Homo sapiens: one gene and its partner. The protein of the gene in region 1 interacts with the protein of each later gene in a pairwise test. Each region holds a gene or a part of one and is shown on either strand. Other genes may lie near its edges.

Region 1 (3,917 bases):
ACAAAAAAACATGCAGCTGGGCATGGTGGTGCACACCTGTGGTCCTAGCTACTCAGGAGGCTGAGGTGGGAGGATTGCTGGAGCCTAGGATGTCAAGGCTTCAGTGAGCCGTATTCGCACCACTGCACTCCAGCCTGGGCAACAGAGCGAGAGCCTGTCTCAGAAAAAAAAAAAAAAAAAAGAAAGAAAAAGGAAAGAACAATAAAAGTCAACTGCTGAGAGGGAGGTTTAGGAAGAAGGGGCTGGCATTATGACTGAGGTGTGAAATAGTCTTTTGGGCCAGGTGCAGTGCCTTATGCCTGTAATCCCAGCAATTTGGGAGGCCAAGGTGGGAGGATCACTTGAGCCCAGGAGTTTGAGGCTGCAGTAAGCTATGATCACACCACTGCACTCCAGCCTTGGTGACAGAGCAAGACCCTGTCTCTATTAAAAACAACAAGAAAGGGAAATAGTCCCTTGGGGGAGAGATTTAGGATTGTCAGTAGCCCTGAGGGCTCGCTTAGGGTCCGTTATCAGCCAGGGTCCAGTCAAAAGACAACACATTATAGTTTTTAACTGAGAGAATTTAATATAAAGGATTGTTAACTAGGTATAAAGATGTGTTTAGGTAACTGTCGGGGTATAATACTAACAGTAGCAACTGCAGGAAGTAGCTACCACTGGTAGGTGGTATTATTAAAATGTAGATGCTTGAGGAGGGGCACAGGGAGGTGAAACTCAGACATCTGAGGAGAGGGTGCTGCTCTGCTAGGGCTGGTGTCTCTGAGGAGAAAACGAGGCTGGTTCTGCAAATGTTGGAATAAGTGCAGACTGGATTCCACTGCTGCTTCCAGAATGTTCCAACTGCCACCTCCAGGATAAAGAAGCAAGAGTGGATGACACCAGACAGGACAGGAGCAAGCAGGAAGCAAAGCCCCCTATTGATAGAGCCAAACCGGGATCAGCTGGAAAGCAGAAGTGTTTGCAGAGGCCCAGCCTGATCATTATAGAGCCAAGAACAGCAGCTGGCTTTGGAGCTTGGTCAACCGGCTTGAGGCCTGAGTTGAAAGCTAGACCCATCAGCACAGTCTCTTCTGGTGATTGGACTTTTGCTAGGTGAGTACACTGAAGCCAGGTAAAGGGAGTGGAGAGTGTGTGTGCCACTGAGTGATTTACAATTCAGGATCCTGGAATATAATTCCGTGAGGACGCAGCGGGTGACTGGGTGCAAAGTAGCCCAGTTCAAGGGACCTGTGGGCCTGGGGATGAGGACCTTTGCTTCTCCACATGCGGTCCATGGACTCGCAGCATCAGCATCGTCTGAGAGCTTGTGAGAAATGCAGAATTTCAGGCCACTGAGACCGCTGGAATTGGAATCTGCATTTTCCAGATCTCCTGGTGGTCCTCAACTACTTACTGGTTTGGGATGGGAAACTAGAAGGCTTGGGCTGGGAAACTAGGGAGTGGTGATCAGCGAGGGGGCGGCCTGGCTACAGCAAAAAGGACAGGCACTGGGAGACAGCCCCTGGGCATGAGCTTCCAAGCTGGGGCTTTTTGAGGAAGCCATAGTGGTCTGGCATTGGGACCTCTGAACGAAATTTCCCGGTGGCTACAAGGAATTTTCCCACTTCCCCAAATTAGTAGATTCGATTTCCATCCCACTAGCTGGTAATTTACAGTATAGTGAATTTCCTTATTTCTTTTTTCTTCCCAAGACTTTCAAAAAGTAAAGCCAACCCCTTTATTTATCTTTGGGCTCGTCCAGTCTGGCTTCCCCCCTCCGATCGTTCGCAGTGGGACAGCCCGCCGGGCCTCCTTCCTTCCCCAGAAACCCTCCAGGCCTGGGAGAGGACGCGTTTTGCATTCAGGAAAAACCAATCGCTCCCCTATCGTACATAACCAAGAGAAAAGGTGGCGGACGAGGGGCGTGGCAAAGTGATTAGTGCGGCCTGGACCCTGCGTGCCTTGCGCGCTGCGGGCTCTTTGCGTCTGCGTAGTTCGCTCACCTCCCTTTCTAACTCCGCTGCCGCCATGGCTCCTGTGGTTAGTATGGCTCCGCGTGAGGCCTCGGCTCCAGGGGAGGCACGTGGGCCTCGCCGAGCCCGGCATCTACCCAGGCTCGCTGGGGACGGCGCCCTGCAGCGTCCTGCTGGGGTGGGCTGGCAGGTCGGCCGGAGCGGGCCAGAGCCCCTGCCGATCCCAGCACGTTGTAGGCGGAGGAGGCCGCGGCCCGAGGCTCGTGAGGGAGATCCGGGAGGTCTCGGAGGCCCGGGGCCCCAGCTAGGGGCTAGCGGGGAGCTGGAGCCTGGAGACTGCGGTCTGGGCCGGCCACTGGTCCTCGGACCCCGGCCGGGGGCCTGATTACCTGGGTGGAGGGCGGGGAAGAAGAACGGGACCTGCTACCCTGGGGAGCCGCGCATTCGGAAGTCCACGGCCAAGACTCGGGGACGAATCCGCGGAAGGGCGGCTTGGTCGGCGTGCTTTCGGAGAGGAGGCCTGGGTTTGAGGAGCTTTTTAGCGTCCCCAGAGGAAATTAGTTTATCAGGGCGCACTGTACAGACCCAAACGGGTGTTGCAGTGGTGTAGGGAGAAGGCTCTCATTGCATTCTCCTTTAGCTATGCTGGGACTGGGCTGTGCGGCGCCCTCCTCCTAGGTTATTTGAGAAAGTTGTTTTTCCGTGTTCTTCGTCCCAAGATCCTACTTTTCCTCTTTTGTTGGGACTCCCTGGTTAACATTTCCGGTTCTTCTGCTCTTTCTGTCTGGTTGGGCTTTTGAATGCCTTTTGGTTTAAAACCTTGATGGAGAAGTATCAAGCCCGTTGTGGGTAGGTCTCTTGATTGATTGTGTGTGTTCGGAATAGATCTTAAAGTACCCCTCTTAGATTATTACTGCGAAGAGACGTTGTAAAAAATAAATCAGTGATTTTTGTAGTGGCCAAATGTTTGAAAAGTTGATCCAGTTAACACAAGTTTTAGATGAAGTTCTTTTAAACATGAAGGGAGGTAAGATGTGTTTTTGGAAAAGTCTATTTAGTTCTGCAGAGCTTTTAAACGTGAAAGTACAGGTTGGTACGATGCACAAGTGCATTAATGGTGTCAAGTTTGTAGAGAGATAAGATTAACACAAGCTTCTTCGTAAGAGTGAAGAAACTGGAACCTTGTAGGATGTGCTTTGCCGGGTGGTTTGGAAGTACTAATGCATAGATGAAGCGAATCAAAATGTCAGAAGTTCTTGACGGTAGTGTTGTAATAAGATTCTAGGTTTTAGCCTTAACCTTGTCCAAGCTGGAGTGGACAGGCACCTAGAATACTTTGCAACTCCCTTCATGAGAAGGTGGATGAGACAGGATTAAGGGAGATGAGCTAAGACGGATCAGGACCCTACTCTGAACATGTAGGACAAGGATTGATTTCATATGAAAATTGTGGGTATGCAAGGCATTTTGTATGCCTGCACTCTAATTTTGGAAAAATAGTATTTTTTTGAAATTGGGAATGTTAGGGCAAACAAAAGGAAGTGTTCATTTTATTGTGGTTCATAAACTAAGAGACCTTCATGCCTGTAGAGATTGGGGAGACTGGAAAGTTTGAGTGAGTCAAGAGTGCTAGAATGATTTCCCCATCAAAAGGGCATGACCCCAGGCCCCAAGCTTGTACAGCAGCATCTGCCCCATTATACCTCTGGCACTCAGGCAGTGATGCCTCTTGGCCCTCTGGCAAAGGGAGCACACTTCCGTTAGTTTTGTATTTGTATGGACTTTTATACCTATGACGTTTCTGGTTCTGTTAATCTTGTTTTTCCGACTGACTGAAACTTCATCTCTGTTATCATTTGTGTATTTTCTTAGAAAAAGCTTGTGGTGAAGGGGGGCAAAAAAAAGAAGCAAGTTCTGAAGTTCACTCTTGATTGCACCCACCCTGTAGAAGATGGAATCATG
Region 2 (3,917 bases), on another chromosome or scaffold:
CTGAAAGTTCTACATGTACTCCATCAACAAAAAATCCCTTTTAGTGTATGATTTTCCTCATCCTTCCTTTCTGTCTCACAAAAGTGACTTTCTTTTCACTCCAGGTCTGACACCTCTCATTTATTCATCGTCTGTGGCAGGCAGCGTGCCGGTAGCTGGGGATCAGCAGTAAACAGCCCAGAGAGCAACGTTCCCTGCCCTTCTGGAGCTCACATCCTCATGGGGCGGTCAGACAGTACGTGCACAATGAGCAAATGAAACATACAGTGTTGGGCTAGTGGTAAGGAAGCAGTCCACAGGCCTGTGGGCAACAGCAGCAGAGGGAGCCCCAGGAGCTGCTGCTGGTTGGGCAGAGCCTTCTGTGGAGGTACCCTTGGGCAGGGCTTGAAGGAGAAAGCAGAGCTGCCTGCGCAGAGGCAGAGGGGGAGTTCCAGGTTGCGGTGAGGCCAAGGATATGGGCTGGAGTGGGGATGGACCGGGCACTACGGGGTGAAGGACAGTAGCAGAGAGAGTCAGGAGATGATGGGGCCCGTGTGAGGAGAGGGTGACGGAGGCCAGGCCACGCAGAACCTCACAGACCAAAGCTGCTTCGCAGTCGGTTCTGAGTGCTTAGGAGTGTTGAGGATGGGTGTTCAGGAGCGACATGGCATCACGTGATTTACATGCCAACATCATGACCCGGCTGCAGGGTTGGAGGGTATGTGTTTGATGCGGGAAATAATGGGAAACATGGAGGTATCTCAGGAGCTCAGTGATTGATCGTGGCAGAGTGGAATAGAAGGAGAGAGAGAGATGCTGGGGTTCAGGAATTTTTTGCAGTATTTAGAGAAGAGAAGAAAAAGAAATGTAGAAAAAAACAATGATGGGGTCGGGGGCGGTGGCTCGTGCGTGTAATCCCAGCACTTTGGGAGGCTGAGGTGGGTGGATCACCTGAGGGGGGGAGTTCCAGACCAGCCTGGCCGACATGGCGAAACCCCATCTCTACTAAACTTACAAAAATTAGCTGGGTGTGGTGGCTGGTGCTTGTAATCCCGCTACTCGGGAGGCTGCGGCAGAAGAATCACTTGAACCCAGGAGACGGAGATTTCAGTGAGCCGAGATCGCGCCACTGCACTCCAGCCTGGCTGAGAAGAGCGAAAGTCCATCTCAAGAAAAAAATGATAGGGATTCACCAATACGGACAAGAAATTAAAAAAAAAAAAGATTGTCGGAAATGGAAATCCTAGAAGGTTTTCATGAAGAAGCGAGTGAACAACTGTCAAATGCTGCTGAGAAGTTAATGGCAATGTCAGCCGAAACTGTTAACCTTGACAAGGACAGTTTCTCTGGAGGGGATGAGGCAGGAGCATGAGGAGGACGTGAGGACAGGCTTACTTACTCTTTGCTTTGGACATGGCAGAGCCTGCAATAAGGCTGTCTCCTGCTCCTTGTTTCCTTGCCAACAGGGCCATCCTCTGCCTTTTCTGATACGAAGGACTGTCACATTCCCTGGGACGTTTAAACACAGTTTCAGGATCTACAGCCACCTTCTCTGTTTTATCGGTCATTGTTTCCTGAAAAACATCAATGAATATATTCTATTCATGACAAAAATCTAACAATCACAAAATGGCAAGCAATCTGCATATGTGTATACAACCAAGACTTTGAATCATTAATTTCACTTTTAATCATGAGCCAAGATTTACCAAGTCTCAACAAACACTCTGTTCTCAGGAAAAGAAACCTAATTTTAATGTACACAAAGTAAAACAGAAGAAAGATGGTATAACCAAATCAATCAGAATGCTTGTGGAATAAGCAGCTGTCATCAACCAAAAATAGATAAAAATATTATTACCTATTTGAAGATGTATAAGCCAATCTGTATTAACCCTTATTAGGAAAAATAGCTGTATAAACCAATCTGTATTAACCCTTGTTAAACATTATATTTTAAACTATATATTATACATTATATTATGCAAAATATGTATTTAATATATAAGTATTTATACTTATATATTCAAATAGATGTATAAACCAATCTGTATTAACCCTTATTAGGAACTCTTATTAGAAGATTGATACAAAACTGATAACAACATCTGACAAGGAATTTAGAAGAATGAAAAACTACAAGATCAAGCCAAAAATACAAGCCAATATCACCCCTGAACTTAGACACAAAAATTCCAAACTAAGGGTGAGCAAATAAAATGCAATAGTACTTAAAAAGGACATACATCATGGTGGAGTATATTGCAGAAAGGCAACATTGATTTAACATTTGATAATCGATAAATGTAATGCACCACATTAACAACAACAACAACAGCAACAAACAGGGAAACACCACATGATCATTTTCATACATGGTCAATGTTTAAAGTCCATTCGTGATAAAAACTATCACCAACTTAGGAAAAAGGGCAAGTTTCCTATTCTGGTTAGCATATGTACAAAAAATTTTTAAATGCCATACTTCATAGTGACGTATCAGTATTTTCTCCCTGAGTTTGAAAACAAGACAAAGATGTCCACTATCCATTCAACAATCTATTGGAGGTTCTAAAAAGTGCTGTAGCATCAGGAAAATACAATAGGTTTAAAATTTGGAAAGAAATAAAACTGTCATTCACAGATGACATTGTTCTGTACATAGAAAAATGCAGAAGAATAAAATCATTACAGTTAATAAGCAAATTTAGTCAACTTACTAGATATAATGAAAACCAATGGCATTTCTGTATAATTAATAGCAACAAATAATTAGAATATGAGATTTCAAATGTCATTAAAAACAGTACCAAAAACATCAAATATTTAGGAATAAATTTAATCAAGATGTGGTACAGCACTACACAAAAATTATAAAACATCACTCAGAGAAATTCAAGACTGCAGTAAATGGAGAAAAATATTCTTTCCATGCAATGGAAGACATCATTTTTTTTTTTGAGTCGGAGCCTCCCTCTGTCGCCCAGGCTGGAGTAGAGTGGCACAGTCTCTGCTCACTGCAACCTCCACCTCCTGAGTTCAAGCAATTCTCCTGCCTCAGCCTCCCGAGTAGCTGAGATTACAGGCGCCTGCCACAACGCCTGGCTAATTTTTGTATTTTTAGTAGAGACGGGGTTTCACTATGTTAGCCACACTGGTCTCAAACTCCTGGCTGCAAGTGATCTGCCCACCTCGGCCTCCCACAGTGCTGGGATTACAGGCGTGAGCCACCATGCCTGGCTGGAAGACATTATTAAAAGACATTATTAAAAGACATTATTGTCAAGTCTCTCAGAATGATCCTAGCAATCATATTTAAAATTCCACCATGTTAACAAAAGTTTTTCTGAAAATTCACAAGCAGATCATTTTTTAAGTATATGCAAATTAAAGATTTGGAAAAGCCAAGTTTTTTTTAAGCCAAGGAAAATACAAAGTTTTTTTTAAAGAAAAAGAACTAAGTTAGTAGATACGCACTACTATATATGAAATTTACTATAAAGGTAGAGTAATTAAAACAGTGTGGTACTGGAGCAATGACAGGCAAATACACCAAGGGAAGAGGACACAGAGGCCAGAAACAATCTGGAAATACAAAATACAGAAGAGTTGTAAATCATTGTGGAAAAGACAGTGCTTTTAATAAATGCACTTGATAAATGCAGGGAAAATACAAACCTTGACTCTTACTTCTTCCCACTCCACAAAACTTTATTAAAGATGGATAGACAATCTAGTAAACACTTAAGATACTGTCTTCACAACTATAGTATAGGCAAAGATGTTTTTAATGAGGATAAACAAGCACTAACCATAAAGAATGAATTGTTTAATTAGACATAATTAAATGGAAAAGTTCTGTTCCTCAAAGACACTATTAAGAGGTGAAAAACCAAATCATGTTTGTAGATTATACATTATGTAGTATATAGTATAGG

What was found.
Region 2: the proteins of RPL22 (region 1) and CT45A1 interact in binary tests that used the Homo sapiens proteins (3 or more experiments, as listed by UniProt).

Annotation. Positions count from the first base shown.
Region 1 is NC_000001.11:6,197,667-6,201,583, reverse strand, and holds the start of RPL22 (large ribosomal subunit protein eL22), read left to right. Parts: upstream 1-1,988; 5' UTR 1,989-2,010; coding exon 2,011-2,022; intron 2,023-3,827; coding exon 3,828-3,917.
Region 2 is NC_000023.11:135,716,571-135,720,487, reverse strand, and holds part of CT45A1 (cancer/testis antigen family 45 member A1), read right to left. Parts: intron 1,554-3,917; 5' UTR 1,548-1,553; coding exon 1,379-1,547; intron 1-1,378.